Regions from separate parts of the Homo sapiens genome. Here region 1 is linked to region 2. Evidence: fine-mapped expression QTL. A gene starts in region 2. The other region holds a variant in brackets. All regions are shown on one strand. Distances are from middle to middle. Region 1 has its middle 15 kb from the start of NKX1-1. Region 2 holds the start of MAEA (macrophage erythroblast attacher, E3 ubiquitin ligase).

Evidence for each region. PIP is the estimated chance that this variant, and not a neighbour inherited with it, causes the effect.
Region 1: its variant is the best candidate, but not a certain one, in a credible set for the expression of MAEA in whole blood (INTERVAL, PIP 0.56).

Annotation. Positions count from the first base shown.
Region 1 is chr4:1,418,405-1,423,618 of GRCh38, reverse strand. No RefSeq gene overlaps it. Among named protein-coding and RNA genes, the nearest start is that of NKX1-1, 15 kb to the right of the region's middle. The variant C/T (reference allele first, on the strand shown) is at 2,723.
Region 2 is chr4:1,287,337-1,292,550 of GRCh38, reverse strand. MAEA (macrophage erythroblast attacher, E3 ubiquitin ligase) reads right to left here and starts at 2,660. Exons shown (of 9, transcript NM_001017405.3): 1 at 2,569-2,660. The coding sequence starts at 2,637. It overlaps LOC105374347 (a long non-coding RNA gene), which reads left to right and starts at 2,980. Exons shown (of 3, transcript XR_925046.3): 1 at 2,980-3,666. LOC105374346 (a long non-coding RNA gene) reads right to left here and starts at 4,948. Exons shown (of 2, transcript XR_925043.3): 1 at 4,828-4,948; 2 at 4,257-4,525. RefSeq lists silencers at 1,079-1,261, 2,350-2,629, 2,730-3,139.

The DNA.
Region 1 (5,214 bases), 130 kb before region 2:
CAGGGGGTGGAGCTTGCAGTGAGCCGAGATCGCGCCACTGCACTCCAGCCCGGGCGACAGTGAGACTCTGCCTCAAAAAAAATAAATAAATAAAATAAAGATACCTAAAAGAGTATAATCGGATTGTTTGTAACACAAAGGATAAATGCTTGAGGGGACGGATGTCCCATTCTCCATGATGTGATTTTTATGCTTTGCGCGCCTGTATCAAAGTATCTCATGTACCCCATAAATATACACACATACTCTGTACCCACAAAATTAAACTCAAACACAGTTATGTTAAATGTCAGTAATCTAAACATACCCAATTAAAAGGCAGAGATTGTTACAGTGAATTTTAAAAAATATCCATCCCACTACATGCTGGCTACACAGAACCCACTTTATATATGACTATATTTGTAAATTAAAAGTTAAAGGATAAAAGAGATATACCAGGGAAATGTTCATCAAAAGAAAGCTGGAATGGCTACAATATCTGATAAAGTCAACTTCAGAACGAGAAAAATTATTAGGGGTAAACAGACATTACATAATGACAAAAGGGTCAATTCACCAAGAAGACATAAAAACCTAAACGTGTATTGCCCTCATAACAGACCTTTAACTGAAAGGAAAAGTAACAGACTCACAACTCTAGCTGGGGCCTCAACAGTCCTCTCAGTATCAACAGAACAATTAGGTAGATAAGGAGGGAGGATACAGGAGAACAATACCATCAGCCAACAATTTCTAAATGACATTTACAGCATCTGCCATCCAACAGCAGCAGGACACACGTTCTTGTCATGTACACATGGAACTCTCCAGAGAAACCATATCCTGGCTTATAAAACAAAACTAACAGATTTAGAAGAATTAAAATTATGTAAAGCATGTTCTTTGACAATAGTGGGTTTAAACTGGAAATGAATGACCTAAAGATACCTTTAAAACCCCAGAGGCTGAGAAATTAACAATTACACTTGTAAGTAATCCATGGATCAAAGAAGTTCTCCTAGAAGAAATTAGAAAGCATTCTGGACTAAATACAAATGAAAATTTAAAATATCAAAATTTTTGGTATGCAGTTAGAGCAGCTCTTAGAGGGAAATTTTTAGCAATAAATGCTTATATTAGAACATCTCATTGACAACCTAAGCTTCTAATTTAGGTAACTAGACAAACAAGAGCCAAAGAAAACCAAAGCAATCAGAGGAAAGAATAGTAAAGATAAAACCGACGTCAGTGGAATTAAAAACAGATAACCAGGTGCAGTGGCTCATGCCTGTAATCCCAGCACTTTGGGAGGCTGAGGTGGGCGGATCACTTGAGGTCAGGAGTTTGAGATTAGCCTGGCCAACATGCAGAAACCCCGTCTCTATTAAAAATACAAAAGTTAGCCAGGTGTGGTGACACATGCCTGTAATCCCAGCTACTTGGGGGTCTGAGGCAGAAGAATCACTTGAACCTGGGAGACAGAGGCAGTGAGCTGAGATGGCGCCACTACACTCCAGCCTGGGTGACAGAGCGAGACTCCATCTCAAAAAACATAAGTAAATAAAATGTTAAGAAAAATAGAAACAAAAATATTAGATAAAATCAATGGAATCAGAAGCTGGTTCTTTGGAAAAGTCAATAAAAATAGGTAAAACTGATAAAGAAAGAGAAGATACAAGTGACCCATTACAGGCATAACAGAGGGGCTGTCACTGCAGAGCCCACAGGCATTGTAAGGATAACAAAGGAGCATTCCATGCACGGATTCAGCACCTCAGATGACTGGACCAATTGGAAATCCACAAACTACCAAGACTCACTCAAGAAGAACTAATAACCTGAACAGCCCTATCTCCACTAAAGCAGTTGAATCCATAGTTAATAACCTCCCAAAAAAGAAAACTCCAGGTCCAGATAAATTCACTGGTGAATCTTACGAAATATTTAAACATAAAAATAACTCCAATTCTATACAAAACTTAATCAAAAAATAGAGGTGGAAGTGACACTTTCTATTTTATTTTATTTTTTTCTCTTTTTTTTGAGTTGGAGTCTTGCTCTGTCGCCCAGGCTGGAGTGCAGTGGCGCGATCTCGGCTCACTGCAAGCTCCACCTCCCAGGTTCAGGCCATTCTCCTGCCTCAGCCTCCCGACTAGCTGGGACTACAGGCGCCCGCCATCATGCCCGGCTAATTTTCTGTATTTTTAGTAGAGACGGGGTTTCACCATGTTAGCCAGGATGGTTTCGATCTCCTGGCCTCGTGATCCACTCGCCTCAGCCTCCCAAAGTGCTGGGATTACAGGCATGTGCCACCATGCCCGGCTGGAAGTGACACTTTCAACTCATTTCGCAGGGCCAGAATTCCCCTAATACCAACACCAAAGTCATCACAAGAAAAGAAACTACAGGACAAAACCTCTCAGGCACATAGATGTGGAAATCTTCAACAAAACACTAGCGATCAAATCCAGAAACATGGAAAGCATGAGCACATGATGGCCAAGTGGGGTTTACCCTGAGAACACAAGGCTGTTCAACAGAGAACGCCAGCCATCACAATCCACCATGTCAACAGACGCAACGAGAGAAGCCATATGAGCCTATGGATACGGAAAAAAAATGTGATAAAATGCAACATCTGTTAATGATTTTACAAATTTCTCAGAAAATTAAGAATAGGAAGGAACTTCCTTAACCTGGAGCTATTATAAAATGTTTTTGAATTTTTAGGATTTAATCA[C/T]TGATCGTGGGTATATAGAAATTAGATTGACCTTTTTCAGGCTTTTTCTCTGACCTTGCTGACTTATGAATTCTGGGTGCTTTTTCCTTGGGATTTTCTACGTAGATAATCATGTCGTCTGTATGCAGGGCTAGTTTTATTTTTTCTGTTTCAATATGTTTACATTTTATTTCTTTTTCTTGCCTGAAATATTTACAGGTGAAGCAACTTAATGTCTGAAGGTATATTTTAAGATTCCAGAATAAAGGTGTGGCTTTGGATACACAAAACCATATTGACACCAAAATGTTGACAGATGTTGCATCTGAGTGACAGGTCCCAGGAAGCTGATCTTACTCTGCGCTGTATTTTTGTGTGTGTTTGAAATATGTTATAGTAGAGGGTACTTTTTTTTTTTTTTTTGAGATGGAGTCTCCCTCTGTCGCCCAGGCTGGAGTGCAGTGGCGCGATCTCAGCTCACTGCAACCTCTGCCTCCCAGGCTCAAGCAATTCTCCTGCCTCAGACTCCCGAGTAGCTGGGATTACAGGCACCTGCCACCACGCCCGGCTAATTTTGTATTTTTAGTAGAGACGGGGTTTCGCCAGGTTGGCCAGGCTGGCCTCGAACTCCCAACCTCAGGTGCTCCGCCTGCCTCGGCCTCCCAAATTACAGGCATGAGCCACCATGCCCAACCCAAGGTTACTTTTTAACCTATTGCCACCCACAAAACAACCTCAATAGCTGACCAAATGGAAAAAAGACAGAGCTCACAAAGAAGACAAAGTTCACAAAAAAAAAGAAGCTACGTGGCTAATATTCATGAGGGAAAATGTTCCTTCTCACCAGTGTCCACAGAAATGGCAACCGCCACAGAAGGAGGCGGGGATGCCACCCTGTGAGATGGTGCCCATGCCAGTGACGCCGGAGACGTTACCCAGCCTTTAGGAATTCCCTCCCTTTAACCCAACCCATCACTTCTGGTGTCTCCTAGAGGTGAACTCAAGTCTAAACAAGAATCTACACAGCAGTGGTTCCAGGCACAGAAAGCCAGACTGCCTAGGCACACGGATGGACGGCTCACGCCCTCCGTGTGACAGGGTTCTATGGGACCGGTAAGAACCTGTGTTACGAAGTCTGCTATGACAACGAGAAATGCCTAGGATACAAGGGGGGGCCAGCATCCAAGTGCCCAAGGCTATAGGTGCAGCGCCCACATTTATGGTTTTTTTTTTTTTTTTTGAGACAGAGTCTCGCTCTGTCACCCAGGCTGGAGTGCAGTGGCAAGATCTCGGCTCACTGCAACCTCCACCTTCTGGGTTCAAGCAATTCTCCTGCCTCAGCCTCCCGAGTACCTGGGACTACAGGTACTCGCCACCACACCCGGCTAATTTTGTATTTTTTTTTTTTTAGTAGAGATGGGGTTTCACCATATTGGTCAGGCTAGTCTCGAACTCCTGATCTCAAGTGATCTGCCCGCCTCGGCCTCCCAAAGTGCTGGGATTACAGGCGTAAGCCACAGCACCCGGCCAACATTTATGTTTTTAGGAAGCAGAAAACGAGATGAGAGGAAAGCAGAAAACGGCAAGGTGTGAGCTGGGCCGTCGCTGTGCTGTGGGTTATGGGAGATGCTGCTTCTCCTCTGTGCTTTTTCACGAGCACGTGTTACTTTGATCACTAGAAAAGGCAACGGTTGTCTACAATCACTGTGAGGGCAGGATGTCCTCACAGACACCTGGCAGGGTTCGGCCAGGTCAGCAGGAAGCCCAGGTGGCATCCTCGTCACAGCTGGAAAGAGATACCGTCACGACCAGCCCCCCTCGCTGGGATCACGGGGTGTGGTCCTGGGTGGTGTCTGTGTTCACATTCCCTTATTCATCCCCAGCCCTAAGCTGCCTCCCACATCTGCCGTGTTGGGGAGGTGGAGGAGGAGACATGGAGCCTCACCCCACAGCCTCCTCAGTGTGATGACAAATGGGCACTTGGATAGGGGCTGGGAGGACTGACGTAATGGGGCATCCTTTGGTGAGGCAGCCACCAGGACCTATCTCGAGTATTGACCCCAGGGCACATCAAAAAAATTAAGTTCAGTAATTTGCTGGGTGAGGTGGAGGCTTCTGTAGTTCCAGTTAGTGAGGAGGCTGAAGTGGGAGGATCATTTGAGCCTGTGAGTTCCAGGCTGCAGTGAGCCGTGACTGCGCCACCGCACTCCAGCCTGGGCGACAGAGTGAGACCCTGTCTCAAAAAGCAAACAAAAGTTATCATTGGCCCAGCACTTTGGGAAGCTGAGGCAGGAGGATGCCTTGAGCCTGGAAGGTCGAGGCTGCAGTGAGCCAAGATCTCTCTCCTGCACTCCAGCCTGGGTGACAGAGTGAGCCTACCTCTAAAAAGAAAAAAAAATTATGGCAGAAATTGCCATGTAATGAAACAAGCAACAGAAAGTGCATGCCAATGGTGAAAGTTTTATTGAATTTATATATTATTAGTAAAAAAATTAACTACGTATTATAATGCA
Region 2 (5,214 bases):
CCTCCAGCCCAAACGTTCGCAGGCCGGTCCACCCCTTTGGTGGAAATAGAAGCTCATGACGACAGAGGTGCCCAAGGTCAGTGCGTGTTGGCTGCAGCAATTCACGTCTGTTCCATTCTCTTCCCACTTCACCAGGAAAATAGAAAAATAAGTACCTGCCAGGCACCCAGGAGCCCCACCAGCCGCCCTGACGCTGTGAGGAAGCAGACATCCCAAGTGTTACTGCTGAAACCCACCTAGGGCTACCAAGCCCTCTGAAGAGAAAGGAATCCCCTGTGAGTCTGTGGAGGACTCACATGGCAGGAAAGCAGTTTAACTATTACCAGGTGAAGATCCAGTCCAGAGCATGCCAGCTGCTACCACCCTGCAGGAGGACTTGCTCTCAGACTAGAGAAGCAGAACATCCACCCCCCACCTTCCACAACCCCGGTCCTGCAGCCCTCGGTCCCTTCTCTGACATCTGCACTGGCCCCTCCTGGAAACTGAAGAGTGCAGCTCTTGAGCTGTGAGCTCAGCATGTTCTGTTTAGTTCTATACCAATAAATGCTTCTAAATCAAGGATCCCTAGTTTCCCAGCAAAACACCTCCATTATCCACTAGGAATCACTCCTGAAAACTTCTATGAAAAAAAGTTTTAACTCAGTAGTGACACAAGTGTCAACAGAGAAATTATGACACTATAATATTTCTTTACCTGTATGACTATCTGCATGACTATTTTAATCAGAAGCTATGCAATCACTCTGGAATACAAATTACATTCACGATTACAAAACAGCAGAAGACCTGAAGAAGAATCCTTTCCGGAGACCTTCCATCTCCCTTCCTAGTTCCTTCAATACACAATGAAAGGATTTCTGGAAACTTTTCCTATCTAGTGTTTCCCACATTCACCAGCCAGTACCAGAAGTGACAAACCACCACGGTTCTGATCTTCAAACCTTCTTGTGTGTTAGCTGAAATGACAGGCCTGGAGGTGCACTGCGTGAGACAAAGTGGTCAGTGGTTAGGACTCCCTACTAATATCACCACAATGTCCTTGTATAGACTTCTCTCAGCTGCAGGGTCTCCATCTCTAAACCAACAGAGATCCACCAATGTCACTGAGTATTAAAAACCAACCACCTACATCTTGGAGGGATCTAGCAAGAGGCTAGACCTTTGGTAACGTCAGCAACATTGCCCTCCCTTCCTTGATCAAAAGAAGTGCTGGACACACAAGCACCATGAAACCCCACTGCGAAACCATTAGTGTGGCGGGCGCGTGGCTCACACCTGTCAGCCCAGCGCTTTGGGAGGTCAAAAGGCAGGAGGATCGCTTAAGTCCTGGAATCCAAAACCACCCTAGGCAACAGTGAAACCCCGTTTCTTTTTAAAAATATGAAATAAACCGCTAGTTAATAAAGAGGAGGAGAAGCTTGCTTCTGCTTTCCTATGAAGACCAGCTACAGCAGGGTACAGCCTGACTTCAGCAGCGCTAACTGTAGCAGGGACCTTTTAATGAATGCTAGGCACTGTTTGAAACAATACGTGGTCACTCATTTCACCCTGAGGTGACACAGGCGCTACCACTGCTTAAACCTGACAAGAATAAACAGTCACCAACCGGGCCCTGATGTCTCCCAGTAAGGACGAATACAGAGAAGCCTGATTCACACCCCAGCAGGATGGCTCACAGCCTGTGCTCTTCAGCCCTTCGCTGAACTGCCCTGGGGCTGGGGGAACGCACAGCAACCTGGCCATACTGCATCCTCCACACCTGTCGCCACACCGTCCGTCCTCAGACGGACGTGAACACCAGGGCGCTCTGGGAGGAGAGAGAAACTACGCAGCTCTCCAGGAAGGCAACACAGAACCACGAAGCTCAGCCGCAGCTCTAGGAAAGCTATGACCTTGATCTTTTAAGGAATTCCTTCCCAGGTGCTTCATATCAAATCCTCTACTAACTAGGTAAAGAACAAGTATCGGCTCCTTCTACTAGGAGCACAAATTTCATTCTAAGAAGTGCGACGTGGCTAGGTGACCACCCAAGGTCACGCAACCGGCAGCCGGACGGCAAGAGCTGTATTTCAGGTTTGGTGACGCCCATCAAAAAGGTCGCTGGGTGCCATCAGGCCGTGAGGTTTCTCCCTACAGTTCCTAACTAGCGACCGGCGCAGCCGGCACCTCCCAGCCCTGGGCTCCCGGGAGGGCGGCCGGGCACTGGCTGGGCACGCCGCGCACTCCGTCTGCCTGGGCGCCAGAGACCCCACGCCCCGCAAACTCCGGCTTCCACCCCAGCCCCAAATTCGCCACCCTTAGCGCTGCCAGAGTCGTCGCTGGCTCGGCTCACGCAGCTCTTCAAGCAGAGGGGCCACAGTCGGGCGCCTGGCAGGGCCAAAGCCGCCGCCCCCGCCACACCTGCCCGGCGCGGACCGGGCGCCCCTGAGAAGCCCGCACGGCCCCGCGAGGCCGCGCCCAGCTCCCGCCGCCCTCGCCGCTGGCCCTCCCGGGGCGGCCCCTCGCGGCCCGAGGGCACTGGCTGGAGACGCCTTCGCTGCCCTCAGCCTGCGCGGCGCAGGCGCCCACCTTGAGGGTCGGGTACTCCTGGACCTTCAGGGTCATGGACAACTGAGCCGCCGACTCCTGCACCGCCATCTTGAAGCGGCCAAAACATTAGCGGGCGGGGGACGCGCGAGCGCGCTGCACGCCGGGAAATGACGCCACGCGCCGGCCGGAGCAGGATGGGGGCGGGCCGATGCCCCTGCACCAATCGTATCCGCCCAGTCGGCCGGAGGCGGAAGAAGGCGCGAACCAATCACTGCCGGGTTTCCTCTCGTTCAGCCAATCAACGATAGCCCCGGCTGGCGGTTTCCACCTTGAATTCGCTACCGGGTTCAGGCCGCAGACGCCGGAGCTGGGGATGCTCCTGGCCCGGGGCGGGCCGATGGGGTGCGGGCTGCGGCCCGGGCGGGTGGAGCTGGGGCCGAGCGGGCTGGGGGACTTGGCGTCCGTCCAGTTACTTGGGGCTCCCGCGGGGTGGTCCCCTGTGGGTCCCTCGTGCCTGCGGTACCAAGGGCAACGCCAACAAAACGCCTGGCCGCATGCGCCTGTAGCCAGCTATTTTTCTTTGGCCTTATTTTGACCGATTTACAGCTGCTGGAATCCTGATGTGGAACCTCCGACTTCCCAACGGAAGAGGAAAGGCCCAGTACCTAAAACTGATTTATGGACAGAAACTCCCGAAGCATGAGAAGCGTGTGGCCTCTCCGCCCTCTCCTTGCAGGGCGGGCAGCGCTGGCATCCAGGTCGTGCGCTGCCTTCATTTCAGCCACTTCACATTCTCAGCCTTTCAAACACCACCCGTCTCCCTCCTTTCCAAAATAAAACTGAAATTAGATTTTATTAATTAGGAAATGACGTCCCAATTAAACCACCTTGTGTTTCACATAACACATTTCTAAACAACTTTTAAAATATTTGGTGTTTAAACAAAGGAAAAACATCTAAGGTGACACAGCGATGAAGGGAGAACCTCCGCTTGGAGGCTGCTACATGTTACAGCCGCAAGACATCCGACCCGCACTGTGGAATCTTTCTCTGTCTTACTTAAACAGGAGTTGGGACTAAGGAAAGTGTTATTCCTCAAGTGTGTGGCTGCAGACTCCAGTCTTTTAGACATTTGAAGTAAGTTTTACAGTGAGGTGCACAAATCTTAACTATACAGCTTTAATGAATTTTCACCCATATTTGCACTTTTATCTAACCGTGTCCTGGTTGAGATTTAGGACATTTCCCGTGGCACAGAAAGCTCCTCTGCCCCTTCCCGGGCTATATCCCCATCATTCTAACCCTGCTCCCCGTAACAGCGTTCCTGACCTTCCTATAGAGATGGAAGCATGCACTCTGTACTCTTTGCGTCCTTTCACGGTTCGCATCGTGTCTGCCACTCTCCGGGATGGTCCCAGTAGTACACAGGAGCACTGCAGCAGTTGGATGGACTGCACTCCTCTTAGAGACTGCCTTCACTTCACCAGGGATTCAAGATTAACCCAAAGGAAAGGACACGGGTTTCATTTCCATGGTAAAATGATCCTATCCTAGTACCATCTACAGTCAGAAATACTTAGGAATTATAAGGCAGAGGTTTGCACGTTGGAGAGGTTGTTTAACCCTCTACAACCTTTGAGTCATTCATTCTAGGTTTTCTTATGTTGGAAGATAAAACTGTATTTGAATTAGTCCTTTTGTAAACCAAAAAGTGTCTGAGACAGATCTCAATCAGTTTAGAAGTTTATGTTGCCAAGGTTAAGGATCATGACCAGTGACACAGCCTCAAGAGGTCCTCAGAACACATGCCCAAGGTGGTTGGGTTACAGCTTGATTTTATACGTTTTAAGGAGATGTAGGCATCAATCAGTACATGTGAGATTTACATTGGTCCGAAAAGGCAGGACAACACAAAGCACAGCGGGGCTTCCAGCTCACAGGTGGATTCAAAGATTTTCTGATTGGCATTTGGTTGAAAGAGTGCTTATCTAAAGATCTGGAATCGAGAGAAAGGAGCATCTGGGTTAAAAGGGGTTGTGGAGACCAACGTTCTTATTACATAGATGAAGCCTCATAGGTGGCCACCATTAGAAGCAATAGATGGCAAATGTTTCATATCTAGATCTTAAAAAGCTGCTAGACTTGGCCGGGTGCTGTGGCTCACGCCTGTAATCCCAGCACTTTGGGAGGCCGAGGCGGGCGGATCACGAGGTCAGAGATCAAGACTATCCTGGCCAACATGGTAAAACCCTGTCTCTACTAAAAATACAAAAATTAGCTGGATGTGGTGGCACTCACCTGTAGTCCCAGGTACTTGGGAGGCTGAGGCAGGAGAATCACTTGAACCTGGGAGGCAGAGGTTGCAGTAAGCCAAGATCACACCACTGCACTCCAGCCTGGGTGACACAGCGAGACTCCTAAAAAAAAAAAAAAAAAAAAAAAAAAACAAGAGCTGCTAGACTCTCAGTTAACCATTAACTTCTTCAGAATCAGAAAAGACCCGGAAAGGAAGGGCAAGGGATTCCCTACAGAATGTAAATTTCTCCCACAAGAGACAGCTTTGCAGGGCCCTTTCAAAATATGTCAAAGAAATATATTTTGGGGTAAAACACTTTGATTTCCTTCAAGGCCAGCTATCTGTCATGTGATGCTCTACTAGAGTCAAGTTGGAATTTGGCATCTTAT